Linked DNA regions of Homo sapiens: region 2 is linked to region 1. The links come from fine-mapping of genetic effects on gene expression. A gene starts in region 1. The other region holds a variant in brackets. All regions are shown on one strand. Distances are between the middles of the regions.

Region 1 (9,725 bases):
AAGATCTTCTGTGCACAGGGCTTGGGGTTCATAGTCTATCCTTTTTTTTTTTTTTCTTTTTTTTTGAGACAGGGTCTTACTCTGTCATCCAGGCTGGAGTGCAGTGGCTCAGTCATGGCTCACTGCAGCCTCGACCTGGCAGGCCCAAGCAATCCTCCCACCTCAGCCTCCTGAGTAGCTGGGATTACAGGCACCTGCCAACATGACCAGCTAATTTTTCTTTTCTTTTTTTTTTTTTCAGACGGGAGTCTCACTCTGTTGCCCAGGCTGGAGTGCAGTGGCGCAATCTCGGCTCACTGCAAGCTCTGCCTCCCGGGTTCACACCATTCTCCTGCCTCAGCCTCCCAAGTGGCTGGGACTACAGGTGCCCACCACCACACCTGGCTAATTTTGCGTATTTTTAGTAGAGACGGGGTTTCACTGTGTTAGCCAGGATGGTCTTGATCTCCTGACCTCATGATCCACCCACTTCAGCCTCCCAAAGTGCTGGGATTACAGGCATGAGCCACCATGCCTGGCCATGACCAGCTAATTTTGGTATTTTTGGTAGAGATGGGGTTTCACCATGTTGGGCAGGCTGGTCTTGAACTCCTGGCCTCAAGTGATCTGCCTGCCTTAACCTCCCAAAGTGCTGGGATTACAGGTGTGAGCCACCACACACAGCCCAACATATGAATTTTATTTTATTTTATTTTATTTTATTTTATTTTATTTTATTTTATTTATTTATTTAGAGACAGTCATGCCTGTCACCCAGGCTGGAGTTCAGTGGTACAATCTCAGCTCACTGCAACCTCCGCCTTCCAGGTTCAAGCGGTTCTCCTGCCTCAGCCTCCTGAATAGCTGGGATTCCAGCCACTCACCATCACACCTGGCTAATTTTTGTATTTTTAGTAGAGATGGGGTTTCGCCATGTTGGCCAGGCTGGTCTCGAACTCCTGACCACAAGCAATCCACCTGCCTCAGCCTCCCAGAATGATGGGATTACACGCGTGAGCCACCACACCCAGGCTCCAACATATGAATTTTAAAGAGACATAATTCAGCCTCTGTACCTTTGGGTCCTCTTATAAACCAGACGCTCTCCTGGGGAGTCCCCTCTGCATTCCAGCGTGCCACCTCATCCTGTCCCACGGTGAGAATGAAATCTTTGTCCCAGTAACACTCAGGGCCAGGCACTGTTCCAACACACACACACACACACACACACACACACACACACACACACACATCCCGCTTAAATCCTCACAACCTCACGATAAACTGGGGCCACAGAGCCATGAAGAGACAAAGTGACTTGCTTGGTTATTGGGCAAATGTAAAAGACTAACCCGGATGGCACTTTGATCTTGGACTTCCAGACTCTGGAACTGGGAGAAAATAGATTTCTGTTATCTAAGCCATCCAGCCTGTGACACTGTTGAAAAATCAGTCTACAATGATCTGGGTCCAGAACCTAACTCCATTTTAGCACTTACAGCGGCTTTGTGGGAAGTAGGAAAGACTCTTGCTCTGCGTTGACCATTGCTAAAAGCATCCCTTCAGCCCCTCAAATGACTCAACATAGAGTTACCATGTGCCCCGGGATTCCTCTCCTAAAAGTGTCTGCCCAAGAGAAATGAAAACATATGTCTACATAGAAATTTGCACACAGCATATCCATCATGCTCCTATGTTCCTAGCATATTCATGATAGCCCAAAAGTGCAAACAACCCAAATGTCCATCAACTGATGAATGGATAAAGAAAATTTGATTTATCCATTCCATGGAACATTGCTCAGCCATAAAAAGAATGGAGGCTGGGTGCAGTGGCTCACACCTGAAATCCCAGCACTTTAGGAGACCGAGATGGGCAGATGGGCAGGCAAACTCCTGAGGTCAGGAGTTTGAGACCAGCCTGGCCAACATGGTGAAACCCTGTCTGTACTAAAAATACAAAAATAACTGGGTGTGGCGGTGGGTGCCTGTAATCCCAGCTACTCGGGAGGCTGAGGCAGGTGAACTCGGAGAACTCCTTGAACTCGGGAGGCAGAGGTTGCAGTGAGCTGAGATTGTGCCACTGCACCCCAGCCTGGGTGACAGAGCGAGACTCTGTCTCTAAATAAATGGAACAGAGTATTGGATGACACTTGCCACACAACACTGAACAAATGATGCTGAGTGAAAGAAGCCAGACACAAAGGAACAACATATTGTATGACTCCATTCATATGAAATGTCCAGAATGGGGAAGTCCGTAGAGACAGAAAGCAGATTAGTGGTTGCCGGGGGCTGGGGGGAGATTAGAGGGTTGGAGGGTGATGGCTAAGCAGTGTGGGATTTCTTTTTGAGGTGATGAAAATGTTTTAAAATCAATCGTGGTGTTGGTCACACAACTCTGAATGAACTAACAGCCATTGAGTTGTGCACTTTAAATGGGTGGGTTATATGGTATATGAATCTTCATTTTTACAAGAATTTCACCTGTGGTTATCCACAACGACTTAGAAAAGTGTCAGCTTCATCGGGCATGATGGCTCACGCCTGCAATCCCTGCATTTTGGGAGGCCAAGGAAGGAGGATCACTTGAGCCCAGGAGTTTGAGACCAGCCTGGGCAACATAACAAGACCCCATCTCTACAAAAAATAAAATTAGCCAGGCGTGGTGGTGTGCTGCAGTTCCAGCTACTCTGGAGGCTGAGGTGGGAGAGGTGCTTGAAGCCAGGAGTTCAAGACTGCAGTGAGCCATGGTCATGCCACTGCACTCTAGCCTGGGAGACAGCAAGACTCTGACTCTAAAATACACACACACACACACACACACACACACACAAAGTGCAAGCTTCCTGTTTCTCTTTTTGTTGTGTTTTCCAATCTTGCAGTTATAAATAACAGTTGTGCTGAGTGTATTCACACACACACACACTCTCTCTCTCTCTCTCTCTCCCCCTAATTAATTCTTGCAAACAAATTCCCAATGGCCCTGTGTGGCTGCTGAGCCCTTGAAATACGGCTACTCCAAAGGGACTCATTATGAAAAGAGAGTGTCTGATAGCTCATAAATAATTGTTTTACATTGACAACTTGTGCAAATGACAACACTTTGTATATTTCGGGATAAATAATATATATTCTTTATTTTCTTTTTCTTTTTCCTTTTCCTTTTTTTTTTTTTTTTTTTTTTTTTTTTTTTTTTTTTTTTTGAGACAGGGTCATTCTCTTGCCCAAGCTGGAGTGCAGTGTAGCATGATCATCTCTCACTTCAGCCTTGATCTCCTGGGCTGAAGCAATCCTCCTACCTCAGCTTCCTGAGTATCAGGGACTACAGATGTGTGTCACTAAGCCTGGCTAACTTTTGTATTTTTTGTAGAGACGAGGTTTTGCCATGTTGGCCAGGCCGGTCTCAAACTCCTGGGCTCAAGTGATCTGCCTGCCTCGGCCTCCCAAAGTGCTGGGATTACAGGCGTGAGCCACTGCGCCTGGCCAAAATCTATTCTTAAAATTCATTTTTCTTCCCTCTTTTCTATTTATTGAAGGTGGCCCCCTAGGAAATTTTGTATTTTTTGTAGAGATAGGTTTTCACCATGTTGCCCGGGCTGGTCTCGAACTCCTAACCTCAAGTGATCTGCCCGCCTCAGCCTCTGAAAGTGCTGGGATTACAGGATTACATGGTGAGTCACCATATTTCTTCTTTTTTTAGATCAATAGATGCAGAAAAAGCAGCTCGTTTTTTGTTTTGTTTTGGTTTGGTTTGGTTTGGTTTGGTTTGGTTTTTTTGAGACAGCGTCTTGCTCTGTCTCCCAGGCTGGAGTGCAGTGGCGCAATCTCGGCTCAATGCAACAACCTCTGCCTCCCAGGTTCATGTGATTCTCCTGCCTCAGCCTCCAAGTAGCTGGGATTACAGGCGTGCGCTACCATGCCCAGCCTAGATTGGAGATTCAAATGTCAAAAATGACACTTTGTAATCCCAGCACTTTGGGAGGCTGAGGTGGGTGGACCACCTGAGGTCAGTGTTGGCTGGCTGCAACTAGGAGTTTTAACATTGCACGTGCGGTTCGAATTTGGGGCTGGCATTCTATTCCTGCTGGACAACGCTGCTCTGGAGAAAAGAGTCACATCACATCCATCTGTGGATCAGGAAGATCAGAGGAGGAAAAAGTGGGGGAAAATAGGAGTGAGTAAGCGGTTTGCCCAGTTGCTGTGGTAACCTTGCAGTTAAACTCTCCTTAAACATAAAAAAATCCAAACACAAAAGTAAGGGGTTGGGCCTGGTGGCAAAAACAAAAAACTCGAGGTGTTTTGGTTTCCTATTTATTTGTTTATTAACAGATGCTTTGGGCTGAGCACGGTGGCTCGTGCCTGTAATCCCAGCACTTTGGGAGGCCGACGCCGGCAGATCACCCGAGGTCAGGAGTTCCAGACCAGCCTGGCCAACATGGTGAAAATCCATCTACTAAAAATACAAAACTAGGCCGGGCACGGTGGCTCACACCTGTAATCCCAGCACTTTGGGAGGCCGAGGCGGGCGGATCACGAGGTTGGGAGTTTGAGACAAGGTTGCCCAACATAGTGAAACCCCGTCTCTACTAAAAATACAAAAAATTAGCTGGGCGTGGTGGCGGGCACCTGTAATCTCAGCTACTTGGGAGGCTGAGGCTGGAGAATGGTTTGAAGCCGGGAGGCGGAGGTTGCAGTGAACCAAGATCACGCCACTGCCCTCCAGCCTGAGTGACAGTGCGAGACTCTCTCTCAAACAAACAAACAAACAAAAAACTAGTCAGGCATGGTGGTGCATGCCTGTAGTCCCAGTTACTCGGGAGGCTGAGGCAGGAGAATGGCTTTAACCCGGGTGGTGGAGGTTGCAGTGAGCCGAGATTGCTCCATTGCACTCCAGCCTGGGCGACAGAGCAAGACTCCATCTCAAAAACAAACCAACAAAACAGATGCTTTTATAATGGTAAGTTCTCAACAAATACTTCTCTTAGCCATCTTTCATGGAGCACCAGCTGTGGGCCAGCTGCTCTTCTAAATGCTTTCCTGGATTATTCCCTTTAATCCTCATGAGAACCCTTTGAGGCCAGGCATGGTGGCTCACCATGTAATCCTGTAATCCCAGCACTTTCAGAGGCTGAGGCGGGCAGATCACTTGAGGTTAGGAGTTTGAGACCAGCCTGGGTAACATGGTAAAAACCCATCTCTACAAAAAATACAAAAACTTGCCAGACGTGATGGTGTATGCCTATAATCCCAGCTACTTGGGAGGCCTGTCATCCTTGCTACTCAGGAGGCTGAGGCAGGAGAACCGCTTGAACATGGGAGGCGGAAGTTGCAGTGAACCAAGATTGTGCCATTGCACTCCAGCCTGAGTGACAGAGCAAGACTCCATCTCCAAAACAAACAACAACAAAAAAACAAAACCCTTTGAGGTAGGGATGATGGTTGAGATATAAACCTACCAGCTGGTCTACAGAGCCAGATTCATATAGAGTAGGGGACAGCCTCATGGCCAACAAGGGACAGAGAAGCAAATGCATGTTTACAGTAGCTATGACTGACGTTCACACGCCCCAGTCTGCTGTCCCAGTCAAGGGAAATGCTTTCTTGCAAAATTCATGCCTGGTCTCACAATCATACATATGCTCAAAGCGTGTGCAAAACCACAGGATTTATTGTGCATGCATAGTTCAGAATACAGGAACGTGTATGGGAGTGAGGGCCGGTCCCATCGAGTGGGGCCTGTACCCTGCAAGTGAGGCCCATATACCCTGAATGGTGTCTTGCTCACAGGTGGTGCCTGGGCCCCCCTATTTGATACTGAGACCCATATACTGTGAATGAGGCCAGTATCCCGAGTAAGTCCTGGTCCTACGCTGCAAGGCCAGTGCCCTTTGATTTAGGCCTATATAATCCTGAATTCCACCTGGCCCCTGGAAGGGGGAATTGTAACCCCCAGTGATGCCGGTACCCTCTGGAAGGAGGCCTCTATCCCCTGAATGAGGTCGGGTATCCTTGAGTGATTTCTGGCCCTCTGTGGTTTCGGCCTTGTTTTTTGCTGGTTAATGAAAGTGGTGCTTCCAGGCCCCAAGTCCTTGTCATCGGGACCTTTAAGAAAAGCGTCTCAGGCCACAGCGACGCAGACCCCAGCTCAAGGCTGCACCGTTGCCATGGAGACGGTTGGGCGGGGGACAGGGGAGGGTGTGCGGCTCCCTCTGCGCAGGCGCACGCGCGAGCAGCCGCGTCGCAGCGGAACTGCTGAGATTCAGGCCCAGGGTGCGCGCTCAGACGCGGCGCGAGCGCCAGGCAAGCTGCGGCTGCTACCTCCCACGCCTCTCCAGGTGCACTCGGCGCCGCCCCCCTGCACCTGGCTGCGGTGCCGAGTCACTCAGGCCTGTGTCAGGGAGAGAGGGAGGGAGCTGTCCTGGAAAGCAGACACGTAAGCCCCCCGCGGATCCTCAGACAGCTCTGGAGAGGGGTCCCGGGGGAAGGTCACTGCGTCCAGCCGGCCAGCAGGCAGCTAGAGCCCCCGAGCCCCGAGCCCCACTCCAGCCTTGCCACATTCACCGGAACCGGGACTCTAAGCCCTGCAAGTGGCTTTCTAGGGTTGCATTGACACCGTGCGCTGCAGCCCACCCCTATCTCGGGCTCCCTGCTGCCCCAAGATCAGCGCCAAGGGGGCTGCACCATGGCCATGAGCCTTTTGCAGGACTGGTGCCGGAGCCTGGACGTGGACGCGCACAGGGCCCTGCTGGTCACCGGCATCCCGGAGGGCCTGGAGCAGGCAGACGTCGAAGCCGTCCTGCAGCCGACCCTCCTGCCCCTGGGCACGTTCAGGTTGCGACACATGAAGGCTTTGATGAACGAGAAGGCCCAGGCCGCCCTGGTGGAGTTTGTGGAGGACGTCAATCACGCTGCCATTCCCAGGGAGATCCCAGGCAAGGATGGGGTCTGGAGGGTTCTGTGGAAGGACCGTGCGCAGGACACGAGGGTCCTGAGGCAGATGAGACGCCTGCTGCTGGATGACGGGCCCACGCAGGCCGCGGAGGCTGGGACCCCCGGGGAGGCACCCACCCCTCCCGCTTCGGAGACGCAGGCCCAGGATTCTGGGGAGGTAACAGGGCAGGCTGGCTCGCTTCTTGGGGCAGCCAGGAACCCAAGGAGGGGCCGTCGGGGTCGCAGAAACAGAACCAGACGCAACAGGTTGACCCAGAAGGGCAAGAAGAGAAGCCGAGGAGGACGGCCGTCTGCTCCCGCGAGGAGTGAGGCCGAGGACTCTTCCGACGAGAGCCTGGGCATCGTGATCGAGGAGATCGACCAGGGCGACCTGAGCGGAGAAGAGGACCAGAGCGCGCTGTACGCCACGCTGCAGGCCGCTGCCAGGGAGCTGGTTAGGCAGTGGGCGCCCTGCAACTCCGAGGGGGAAGAAGACGGTCCCCGCGAGTTCTTGGCTCTGGTCACCGTCACCGACAAATCGAAGAAAGAAGAGGCAGAGAAGGAGCCAGCTGGGGCCGAATCCATCCGCTTGAACACCAAAGAAGACAAAAATGGTGTCCCCGACTTAGTGGCCCTGCTGGCTGTGAGAGACACCCCGGACGAGGAGCCGGTGGACAGCGACACTTCGGAGAGCGACTCGCAGGAAAGTGGGGACCAAGAAACAGAGGAGTTGGATAATCCTGAGTTCGTGGCCATTGTGGCCTATACCGACCCGTCGGACCCCTGGGCCCGGGAGGAGATGTTGAAAATCGCTTCTGTTATCGAGTCGCTGGGCTGGAGCGACGAGAAAGACAAGCGAGACCCCCTCCGACAGGTCTTGTCCGTCATGTCCAAGGACACTAACGGGACCCGCGTGAAGGTGGAAGAGGCGGGCCGCGAGGTGGACGCCGTGGTCCTGCGCAAGGCCGGGGATGACGGGGACCTCCGGGAGTGCATTTCCACCTTGGCGCAGCCGGATCTCCCTCCCCAGGCGAAGAAGGCTGGGCGTGGCCTCTTCGGGGGCTGGAGCGAGCACCGTGAGGACGAAGGGGGTCTTCTGGAGCTGGTGGCGCTCCTGGCTGCCCAGGACATGGCGGAGGTGATGAAGGAGGAAAAAGAAAACGCCTGGGAAGGCGGGAAGTACAAATACCCCAAAGGCAAACTGGGGGAGGTATTGGCGCTCCTGGCCGCCCGGGAGAACATGGGGTCCAACGAGGGGTCGGAGGAGGCTTCGGACGAACAGTCCGAGGAGGAGTCGGAGGACACCGAGAGCGAGGCGTCGGAGCCGGAGGACAGGGCATCCAGGAAGCCCCGGGCCAAGAGGGCGCGCACGGCCCCCAGGGGCCTGACTCCGGCCGGCGCGCCTCCCACCGCTTCCGGGGCCCGCAAAACCCGCGCGGGCGGCCGAGGCCGAGGCCGGGGCGTCACTCCCGAGAAGAAAGCCGGGAGCCGGGGCTCGGCCCAGGACGACGCCGCAGGAAGCAGGAAGAAGAAGGGGAGCGCGGGCGCCGGGGCCCATGCCAGGGCAGGCGAGGCCAAGGGCCAGGCGCCCACTGGATCCAAGGCCGCGCGCGGGAAGAAGGCCCGTCGGGGCCGGAGGCTGCCCCCTAAATGCCGCTAGTGGCCCCCCAAGAAGCCGCCCAGGCTGCGAGCAGGCCCCGCAGGGCACCCGCCCGCCTGTGGCCCCCGCCCTCCCCTCCCCTCTTCCTGTCCTCCGCAGACGCAATCTCCTCGCTTCACAGCGCGCCCGGGCCGCGTTTTGCCAGCGTCACGTTCCCCTCTCGGGCCCTCGCAGGCCGGGGGCGCCAGCGATCCCGACGGAGGAAGCCCGGATGGGAGGAGGAAAGAGAAGTGGGCGCCCGAGGCAGCAGCGCAGGGCCGAGATGGGGACGCGCCAAGTGGACCAGGATTGGGGGCCCGGGTTGCCCCCGGAGGGGGTGTGTGTGTGGACGCCGGGCACCTGCAGAGGCGAGCAGGGCTCTTCGTGGCGCTCTCGGGGCCTGCGCCTGGCAGGTGCTGTAGGCCGCTGTCGCCCCTACCCCAGTCTGACTGGGCCCTGGGTCTGTGGTGGAGGCTCAGTCACCAGCCGCGCAGCGCGTGTCAGGGCGCAACTCTCAGCCAGGGGAGGCCCCAGCTCCCAGCCAGGGGAAGAGATGATTCCAGAAAGGAAAGTCTGAGAGATAGAAGGCGGTTGGGAAGGGGAGGAGGAGGAAAGGGGAGAGGAACGGTGGGAGAAGGGAAAGAGGAGGAGGAGGGGGAGGGGGGAGCAGAGGGAAGACACATGCCAGCCCTGCCTACTGGGGCGCCCCTGATAACAAAGGAACCAGCCCCAGGCCAAGGCCACCTGCCCCTGACCACAAGTTGAATTTGTCACTCAGACTGCAGTGTTTCCCAACATTCTAATTATTTGCAGAGGTGTTCAATTTGGGGTAATTCACTTAAAATCCAGTTTTGGTTCTTCTGGGCTGAGTGGGCCCTGGCCCCTCCCATAGGCTGTGGCTCCCCTGGGTGCCCCCTCTCCAGTGGAGCTGACCCACCGCTCAGCGCTGGCCTTGCAGCCCTTACTAAAAGACTTGAAAGTCCCTGGGTTCACCCCCTGAGTGAATTAAAGGCCAGAGGGGCCCCGAAGGGCACTGTGAGGGACAGAGGCTCACCTGGGCAGTGCAGAAGCCGGCCGCGTGTCCCTCCTTACAGGGGATGAAATGACCTGGGGAGGAAACCCCAGCCCTGCCCTGGAGGTTCCAGAGTAGGCGGGCCGGTGCTGTGAGGCTTCAC
Region 2 (10,000 bases), 29 kb after region 1:
AATTTAGGAATGCCAGAGATGACAGTGAAATGAACATTTGGCTATTTGGCCTTGCAAATGTCAGTTTCAAAAATGAACCCAAAGAACAGATTTTGGTTGAATACCAAGGCCCAAATTGTACTTCCATGCATCTTTCAGATGAGATCCCCCCGAATCTTCAAAACTTCCAAATCAGGAAGATTTTTTATTAGAATTCCTATTACAGAGAAAAGAAATAAGCTCAGCGGGGTCAAATTATTTCTCTAAGATCACACAGCCAGGAAGGGACATTGGTAGGTGGATCAGTGAGGGACTGGCAAAAAAAAAAAAAAAAAAACAGATGGCCAGTCCAACCGAGTCTCATAGGAGTGCTTAATTAATTAGTTTATTTTTTTTGAGACAGGGTCTCCTGGGTTCAAGCAATCCTCCCACCTCAGCCTCCCGAATAGCTGAGACCACAGGTGACCCCTATCACACCTGGCTAATTTTTTGCGTTTTTGGTAGGGACGGGGTTTTGCCATGTTGCCCAGGATGGTCTCGAACTCCCCAGCTCAAGTGATCCGCCCTCCTCAGCCTCCCAAAGTGTTGGGATTACATGCGTGAGCCACAGCACTGGGCATTAATAAACTATTAACAAAGTTCTTGCTCATGGGCAGCAAGGTTGAGGTAGGAGGCCCAGGGGACTCCACTGAGGATCACATTGAAGACTGGCCAAAACCTGGAAAAGGCACCGAAAGCCTCTCTCCATAAGACATGCCTGCCAGCACCATGACAGTTTACCATTGCCATGGCAACACCCATAAGTTACTGCCAATTTGCTAATTCTGAAAACCCACCCCTTAATTAGCACGTCATTAAAAGTGGGTATAAATGTGACTGCAGCCTTGCCCCGAGGTGCTATTCTCAGCACACTGCCTAGAGGGTAGCCCTCCTTGTTAGGTTTTGGAGGGAAGGTGAGGGTTAAAGACACACAGACAGAAGGCGGCTCAACAGCAACTCAGGTATACTGCAGACACCTGTGGAAGTGGGTAACCAGCCTAATGCCAGAGCCCACTGCTGCTTATAGGCTGGGGGTACTTATAGTTATGGGTGGGAGGGGTCTGAGCAGTATGGTTTGCTGCCCAGCAGGATGTTGATAAGATGGTTCCATGATGAGGCGGTTCTGGCCCTTGTTCTGGTGGAATGTGGTGTTCTCTGCACTTTCTCCCAGCAGAATATGATAGGGATGTTTCTTCAGTTGGGCCTTTGCACGATAGGGTATGATAATGTTTCTTTAGCTGGGCCTTTGTCCGCCTTGTGGTCAGGTGATTAGGCAGGATGTTTCTCATTGGCCCGAACCCCCGTGGAATATTTCACTTTGACCAAGATCTGCAAAATAGTCAGGGCTTACAAAATGGTTGCAGTTTGGACTAACACTTCTCTGTAGGGGCAGTCACTGAGCTGTAACATTGTCCCCTGCCTGGAGGATGCCAAGAACCTGCCCTGAATCACGTTGAGGAAACAAGAAAAGGCGAGGCATTATCCTCATGCTAGAAGGGGTCGGGGAGGAGACTAAGAAATTTCTAGAAGTTTCTGGAAATTCCTGGAAGAACCCAGCAGCTTGTAAGAGAGAAGGCTACAAGCCCAACAGGAACTGCACCTGCTGTTGGAGGAACCCAAGAAGATTAAAGCCTCGTTTTCCTCCTTTCTTGATTTCTAGTGTCTCCCAAGAGTTGCGTTGGGTGAATCCAACAGGTGGGGCAGAGGATAATACAGTCAGTGGGTGCAGCCATAGGTGTTGGCGCTTCTCATCGACCTAACCCCCGTTCGCGAGGCCCACTTGGGTTGAAAGAGGGCCTCCGTGGAGGCGCCACCGGAGTGTATCCAGACCCGCTTGCTCTGCGACCTGAACAGGCCACTCTTGCACCCGGCTCCCTAGGTCCAATTGCAGCGCCGGCGCGCCGGCCGGGCTCAGCCCTAGCAACCCACGCCCGGTTGCCATGGAGACGTCGGCACCTGCGCAGCCCAAGACCCCCGAGCGGCGGTGCGGGAGCCAGTGCGCAGGCGCGCGCTGCGACGCCAACCTCGGCTTCTCGCCGCTAACGGCATCGAGTCTGGACGCCCCGTGACCCGCCTGGGCCGGAGCGGGGGCGGACGGCGCCTTCTTGGCCCTTTCTGCCTCTAGCAGCGGCGCCGGGGTAGCCGGAGCCAGCGACTGGGAAACGGCTGCATTCCACTGCGTCTCCTTGGCCTGGCTGGGCGGTCGGAGGCTGATCTGCCAAGTAAGTCCCGGCTGGGCAGGCGGAGCGTCAGGCCCGGGGGAGGGTCCTAGGGCCTTTTGCTGCAGATTCAGGGACACGTGTGAGCACCGGGGCCTGGGTTGGGGAGGAGGGTGTTGGGAAAGCGCCAGGCCTCCTGCAGGCCAGCCGCGGAGGGGGCAGCTAGGATCTGTGAGCTTGGTCATCTTCCTGGGAACGTGACCTCGCTCCCTTGTCACCTTGCAGGATTACTGTTTGGAGACCGCTGCAGCCCACGTCCACCTGATAGACTATTTACTACACATAGTAGGTTCAGAGCCGCTAAATGTCCAAGACCATGGCGATGAACCTTCTGGAGGATTGGTGCAGGGGAATGGAAGTGGACATCCACAGGTCCTTGTTGGTCACAGGCATCCCAGAGGACTGTGGGCAGGCAGAAATTGAGGAGACCTTGAATGGGGTCCTCTCCCCACTGGGCCCGTACCGCGTGCTCAACAAGATTTTTGTGAGGGAAGAGAATGTTAAAGCTGCCCTCATTGAGGTTGGTGAAGGTGTGAATCTGAGCACCATCCCCCGTGAATTCCCAGGAAGGGGTGGTGTCTGGAGAGTGGTCTGTAGAGACCCTACCCAGGATGCCGAGTTTTTAAAAAATCTGAATGAATTCCTGGATGCCGAGGGGCGCACCTGGGAGGATGTGGTCCGCCTGCTCCAGCTCAACCACCCCACCCTGTCCCAGAACCAGCATCAGCCCCCAGAGAACTGGGCAGAAGCTCTGGGGGTGCTTCTGGGAGCAGTGGTGCAGATCATCTTCTGCATGGATGCCGAGATCCGCAGCCGGGAGGAAGCCAGGGCCCAGGAGGCCGCTGAATTCGAGGAGATGGCAGCCTGGGCTTTAGCAGCAGGGAGGAAGGTGAAGAAAGAACCGGGGCTTGCAGCAGAGGTGGGTTCTGCCTTAAAGGCAGAGACCCCCAACAACTGGAATGCCACGGAAGACCAGCATGAGCCTACCAAACCTTTGGTTCGCAGGGCTGGAGCTAAGTCTCGCTCCAGGAGAAAGAAGCAGAAGAAGAACTCCAGGCAGGAAGCAGTGCCCTGGAAAAAACCCAAAGGCATCAATTCCAACAGCACAGCTAACTTGGAGGATCCTGAGGTGGGTGATGCTGAAAGCATGGCGATCTCAGAGCCGATCAAGGGCAGCAGAAAGCCCTGTGTGAATAAGGAGGAGTTGGCTTTGAAGAAGCCCATGGCGAAATGTGCCTGGAAGGGTCCCAGAGAGCCACCTCAGGATGCCCGGGCAGAAGCCGAGAGCCCAGGAGGCGCCTCTGAGTCAGACCAAGATGGTGGCCATGAAAGCCCACCAAAGAAGAAGGCCGTGGCCTGGGTGTCTGCCAAGAACCCCGCTCCCATGAGGAAGAAGAAGAAGGTGAGCTTGGGCCCTGTCTCCTACGTCTTGGTTGACTCAGAAGATGGCAGGAAGAAGCCGGTGATGCCAAAGAAAGGGCCAGGCTCAAGAAGGGAGGCATCAGATCAGAAGGCCCCTCGGGGCCAGCAGCCTGCCGAGGCAACAGCCTCAACCTCTAGGGGTCCGAAGGCCAAGCCAGAAGGCTCTCCTCGGCGTGCCACCAATGGTGAGAATGATAGCAGAAGTGACTGGGCTCGTGCCAGCAAGTGGATGAGGCAGGAGGAGCAGGAGTGGCAGGTGGGGCAGAGGAGCCCGAGGAGGTGGTGGGTCAAGCGGGTGATGAGGAGGACCCTGGTGCATGGCAGGAGGTGGATGACACACCAGTTGAGGAGGGTAAGAGCCCAGACCGCCCTTCCAGGAGCCCCTGAAGGCCGATGCTGGAGACATCTGGTGGGCAGGAGGTGGCAGAGGAAACCCACAATGAGTGTCACTGTGGTCATTTGCCACTCCATCTGACCCATCTTCCTTGATGAGAATTTAATGGTTTGGGCCCAGGCTTGGTGGCTCATGCCTGTAATCCCAGCACTTTGGGAAGCCAAGGTGGGCAGATCGCCTGAGGTCAGGAGTTCAAGACCAGCCTGGCCAACATGGTGAAACCCCGTCTCTACTAAAAATACAAAAAATTAGCCGGGTGTGGTGCCACATACCTGTAATCCCAGCTACTCGGGAGGCTGAGGCAGGAGAATCTCTTGAACCCGGGAGGTGGAGGTTGCAGTGAGCCTAGATTGTGCCACTGCCCTCCAGCCTGGGTGACGAGAGTGAGACTCTTGTCTCCAAAAAAAAAAAAAAGAATTTAATGATTTGGGAGGCCAAGGCAGACAGATCACCTGAGGTCAGGAGTTCGAGACCAGCCTGGCCAACATGGTGAAACCCCATCTCTACTAAAAATACAAAAATTAGCTGGGCATGGTGGTTTGTGCCTGTAATCCCAGCTACTGGGGAGGCCAAGGCCTGGGATTGGCCTCCAGACATCTGCCCACCAGATGTCTCCAGCATCGGCCTTCAGGGGCTCCTGGAAGGGCGGTCTGGGCTCTTACCCTCCCTGAACCTGGGAGGTGGAGGTTGCAGGGAGCCAAGATCACACTGCTGCACTCCAGCCTGGGCGATAGAGTGAAACCCTGTTCCCCCCTCCCCCCAAAAAAAATATTAATACTTTGGAGTTATGGTGTTTGCAGGGTATGTGGCTTTAAGGGTGAAGTTTTCTAGAGACCTGGCTGGGGAATAGAAATGTTCAGGGACCCAGAAATTTCTTGGAAGTAATGCATTTCCTAATGACACCTCTCTGCTTCCCTTCTTGATCTGTTCTCTCATTTATTTGCAGAATCCAGAAAGGTTTGATCTGGGGGACCACCCATACTGAGGAGTTGAAAGAACAAGGAAGAAGTACCAAGTCAACCAAGTTCTCTCTTGTCACTGAATAAGACTTTGGACTCTCTTAGGGCCCCTGTTGATAGAGATCTGGCCCTGAGGTAAACGATAGGTGAGGTCTTGGGTGGGAGGGAGTTGGGGAAGGGAGGTGGATCTCTATGCCCTTTTCTCTACCAGGCCTGCCGTTTCACCGCCTTCTCTACTCACCTTCTCTTCGGAGGCAGGAGAGTTGGTAAGAGGATTGGGAAAATTCTAGAACATTCATTCCCCTTTATGCATGAGCAGGGTCACTGTTACACTCATCCATGTTCAGCTTTTCTCCCCCACGCCTTGCTCCCTCCTCGGAATGGTCAGCGACCTCTGCAGGCCCTGGCATTTGGAAGAGCTGGGTGGCCCTGCCATATTCTTCCTCCCGCCTTCCTCTCGTGTAACC[A/T]GCGGGGTAAGTTAAGCCAGGACCTTCGCTGCAAACCTGGTTTTATTGCTCCTTCAGTCTCCAGCTTCCATCCTCCAGTTATCTAGCCAGGAGGTCCCAAGAGTTAGTTTTAGGGAAAAAGAATGTCTGCCTAGACCTCAAAGTCTTTGAGTTTTAGAGTCTGTTAGTAAAAATGGCACTTTGATTCCCATTTGGGATGAGCCCTCTCAGGAATCCTGTGGGGAAGGGGGGTGATTATAGGGAAGGACGCAGGCATTCCTAGGTCCCCAGCTCTAATTCCATCCATCTACCCAACTGTCACCATCTTTGCACCAAACTGTCACCATCTTTGCAGCAGAAGGTCACTACTCACATTATAGTAAGAGGGGAAAAAAATCTTTTAAAACTTGGCTGTTGGCCGGGCACGGTGGCTCACGCCTGTAATCCCAGCACTTTGGGAGGCTGAGGCAGGTCGATCACGAGGTCAGGCGTTTAAGACCAGCTTGACCAACATGGTGAAACCCCATCTCTACAAAAATTAGCTGGGCGTGGTGGCGCGCGCCTGTAATCCCAGCTACTCAGGAGGCTGAGGCAGATGAATTGCTTGAATCCAGGAGGCAGAGGTTGCAATGAGCCGAGATTGTGCCACGGCACTCCAGCCTGGGCAGCAGAGTGAGACTCTCTCTCAAAAAAACAAAACTTGGCTGTTAATGTCTGCCCTCTGAATTCAGACACACTATATTAGACCAGACCACCATGTGTCATTGTGTGTGTGTGTGTGTGTGTTTGCGTGCGCATGTGTAGAGGAGAGAGCAGGGTCCCTGAGATAATGGTTTCCAAACTGTATCGTAGCCGTCCACAAAGATGTAATCCAAATCTATTTTTCTCACGTGTTTAAAAAACTGAAAAGTGACTACTCAGATATGTTGGAAGTCACATCGAAGACTATCAGAATATTACCTTGTGTTCATAGGTTAACTTGTTTTTGTACACGTCTTAGTTATTTCAGGCATCTCTTTGCTTAAAATTGAGTTTCTTGTAAATGTGACTGATGAGCGAGGTTAGAAGTGGAAGAAATTCCTGTGCATGTTCTATAATCTGACACCCTGAAAGCAAGTTTCCTTTCGTCATTCACATGCTCTTGTTCTGCCGTGACTGTTCAGGTGTATGGTAGTAAGTAAATGTATTAACATGGTGAACAGTAGTAATATTCTATCATAGAGTATTAGCCCTTGCAAGTTTTCAGGGCGTCTTTTCCGACTTCAGTTTTTGTGATAAAGAATGTGAACAGTTGTTAGATGTTCTCAGTGATTCAACTTTAAAACAAATTTCTCGTGATGATTCATTTCAAAATCCTGAGTGAGTCTGACTGAAAAATACGAGAGAAAAGAGAGTGGTTTCCGTTTGCAGCTACACAGCTGTGTGCATCGACGTTCTCCTGGGGTGTGTGCCAAGCGAAACCCAGGGGTGAATTGGATTCTTGAAGAGACCAAAGCCTGTAACTGTCCAGCTTCTAATTTCAAAACGGGTCCATTAGGGCTTCGTTGTGTTAACAAGTTGACACCATGACTAGTAAATGTAAACGTGTATGTATAAAATAAAGTTTAGCAAATTAAGTGTCCTGTTAAGTCTCTTGTAGGTGAGGATTGCATGGACTATTAAATTTGAGGAAAGGGTTCCCCTTTCCTCAAACAGTGCCCCCAGCCAGATGTGACTGGTTATCAGATACGGGTTCAAGCTTTGAGAATTGTTAATGATCCATGAGAGAAGAAGCCGTTTGTCCTCTTTGCGAATGGCTTTCCACTGATGTGGAAGGATGTCCCACAGATCTTGGGGTTTCTAGAATAGGTATCTGGTGACGCAAATTACCTCAAAGTACCAGTTTATTTTTTTATAAACAGCTGGAAAATGAAAACCTTTCCCTCCCTTCCTATTCCCTCACACAGAAGCCAAGGTCTTTTTTTTTTTTTTTTTTTGAGATGGAGTTTCGCTCTGTCACCCAGGTGGGAGTGCAGTGGCACAGTCTCAGCCCACTGCAGCCTCTACCTCCTGGGCTCAAGTGATCTGCCCACCTCGGCCTCCCAAAGCGTTGGGATTACAGGTGTAAGCCACCATGCCAAGCCAGAAGCTGAGGTCTTTTAGCTAAAAATATAGTTTTCTTCTGGCCCTCCCCTGCCCCTCCCCAGGAACTCCTGAACCAGGGTGGCCACTACATCAGTCACTTGGAATCTGTTCAAGGTACCATTTCGTGGCTCTACCTGCTGATTCAGGATCTCTTCGGGGTTGTACATAGTTATCTGCGTCTTAAACAGTTTCTCCTGAGAATTTTTTTTTTTTTTTTTTGAGACGGAGTCTCGCTCTGTCTCCTAGGCTGGAGTGCAGTATCATGATCTCAGCTCACTGCAACCTCTGCCTCCCGGGTTCAAGCGATTCTCCTGCCTCAGCCTCCCAAGTAGCTGGGACTACAGGGGTGCGCCACCACGCCCAGCTAATATTTTTGTATTTTTTTTAGTAGAGATGGAGTTTCACCATGTTGGCCAGGATGGCCTCGATCTCTGATCTCTTGACCTCGTGATCCGCCCACCTCAGCCTCCCAAAGTGCTGGGATGACAGGCGTGAGCCACCACGCCCAGCCAAGAATTCTATTAATAATACAGGTTGGAGAGCTTCAGGTGGAATAATTCAGACTTGGGGAAACGGAAGTGTCCTTAGGGGTCCAGGTTGAGGTTTTGTGAAAGTGAATGGAGATTATGAGGAAAGATGCGAAAGAGACCAAAAGGGAAGCTGGGATTTGAGGACGCGGAGCTCGTTAGGAACTGCCGTGTACTCATAGAAGCATCTGGATGAAGCTCTATTTATTGGGTGCCCCCACACCCCCACAATGGGAAAAGCCCTATTTGACCAAGATGTTTAAGTACCTCCCACAATAATAGTCACTCCTACTGGTTACACCCAGGCTGTCAGTAAAGTATGAAAGGCCTACGTGCCCTAAAAATGGGGGGAATCCAAGGTTGGGGCACATGAAAGCTCTCTTCAAAGAAACCTCATCGCCCCGGGTGGAGGTGTTCTGTTCAGGGGTGCGTCTGGGGAGGCGCTGGCCCGGAGTGTTTGCAGGAAGATGGAGAGCTGTGGATGCCACCAGCAGGGCTCGAGGGCAAAGTGTCCTGGTTGCCCATGCTGCCATTCAAGCAAGGTTCGTTGAGAATCTGCTGTACGACAGCCAGGAGCAAGACAGAGTCCTGGCTTCCTGGAGCCTGACGTTTGAGTGAGGACAGACCTTATATAGACACAGGTGGAGGGGTGGGGAGCTCTGCCGTGAAAAATATAACAGGAAGATAGGCAGGCAAGGTGAGTGTGCAGAAACGGCTGGCTGTCGCTTACAATGGTTGGGGGAGCCTCTCTGGGAACTGGATGTCTGAACAGACCTGAAGGGGGTGAGGGGTGAGACAAGCAGTTGGCCAAGAACGGCCTCCTGGGCAGAGGGAACAGTCATCGTGGAGGGAGGCTCTAATCTGTTTCAGAAAGTGAGTAAGGCTGGGCGCAGTGGCTCACACCTGTAATCCCAGCACTTTGGGAGGCCAAGGCGGGCAGATCACCTGAGGTCAGGAGTTCAAGACCAGCCTGGCCAACATGGTGAAACCCCATCTCTACTAAAAATACAAAAAAATTAGCCAGGTGTGATGGCGCGTGCCTGTGGTCCCAGCTACTTGGGAGGCTGAGGCAGGAGAATTGCTTGAACCCAGGAGGTTGAGACTGCAGTGAGCTGAGATCGCACCACTGCACTCCAGCCTGGGCGACAGAGCAAGACTCTGTCTCAAAAAAATAAAAATAAAAAAGCAAGGAGGAGGTGAGGAGCAAGAGGGCAGGGGGCTTTGGAGGCTGGTGTGCAAAGCCCCACAGGTGCGGCCAGGATGGATTCCAGCTTTAATCTGAGAGATGGGAGCCATGGGAGGGTGCTGAACACAGCGTCAGGATCCTACATAGGTTGTTTCCAGGCTCCCCCTGGAAGCCTGGTGGGGAACAGACTGCAGAGGGTGAGGTGGCAGCTGGGAGCCTAGTGGGGAGGTGACAGTAGCTGGACCCAGGAGGCCCAAGAAAAAGCTGCCCATTTGGGGATCTGGTTAGCAGAGCTGCCAAGGAGAAAGAAGTGGGTTGTGTTGATTTACTTATTCATTTATTCCTTTTTTTTACATTTTCATTTTTTAGTTAAAATAAAACATTTATATACAGTGAAATGGACAGATCTTAAGTGAACGGTCTGATAAGGATAAGTTTGGACATAGGCAGGCACCTGTGTAACCCACCCCTGCGACAAGTTACAGAACAATATCATCATCCTAGAAAGCCTCCCTGTGCCCCTTCCCAGTCGGTCCCCGCCGCAGCTCTCAGAGGTGAGCACTGTAATGATTTTTCCAGCCAAAGCTCAGTGTGTCTGTCCCAGGAGTGCTGTAAGTGGAGTCATACAGCATATGGTTTTTTTGGTGTCTGGCTTCTTTTCCTCAGCATAGTGTTTTTGTTTGTTTTGTTTTTGTTTTTGTTTTT

What was found. PIP is the estimated chance that this variant, and not a neighbour inherited with it, causes the effect.
Region 2: its variant is fine-mapped to the expression of PNMA8B in whole blood (INTERVAL, PIP above 0.99).

Annotation. Positions count from the first base shown.
Region 1 is chr19:46,492,404-46,502,128 of GRCh38, reverse strand. It overlaps PNMA8B (PNMA family member 8B), which reads left to right and starts at 6,262. Exons shown (of 1, transcript NM_020709.3): 1 at 6,262-9,725. The coding sequence starts at 6,664. The coding sequence ends at 8,571.
Region 2 is chr19:46,463,577-46,473,576 of GRCh38, reverse strand. PNMA8A (PNMA family member 8A) reads left to right here and starts at 2,014. Exons shown (of 3, transcript NM_018215.4): 1 at 2,014-2,240; 2 at 2,463-3,844; 3 at 5,000-7,074. The coding sequence starts at 2,542. The coding sequence ends at 5,016. The variant A/T (reference allele first, on the strand shown) is at 5,480.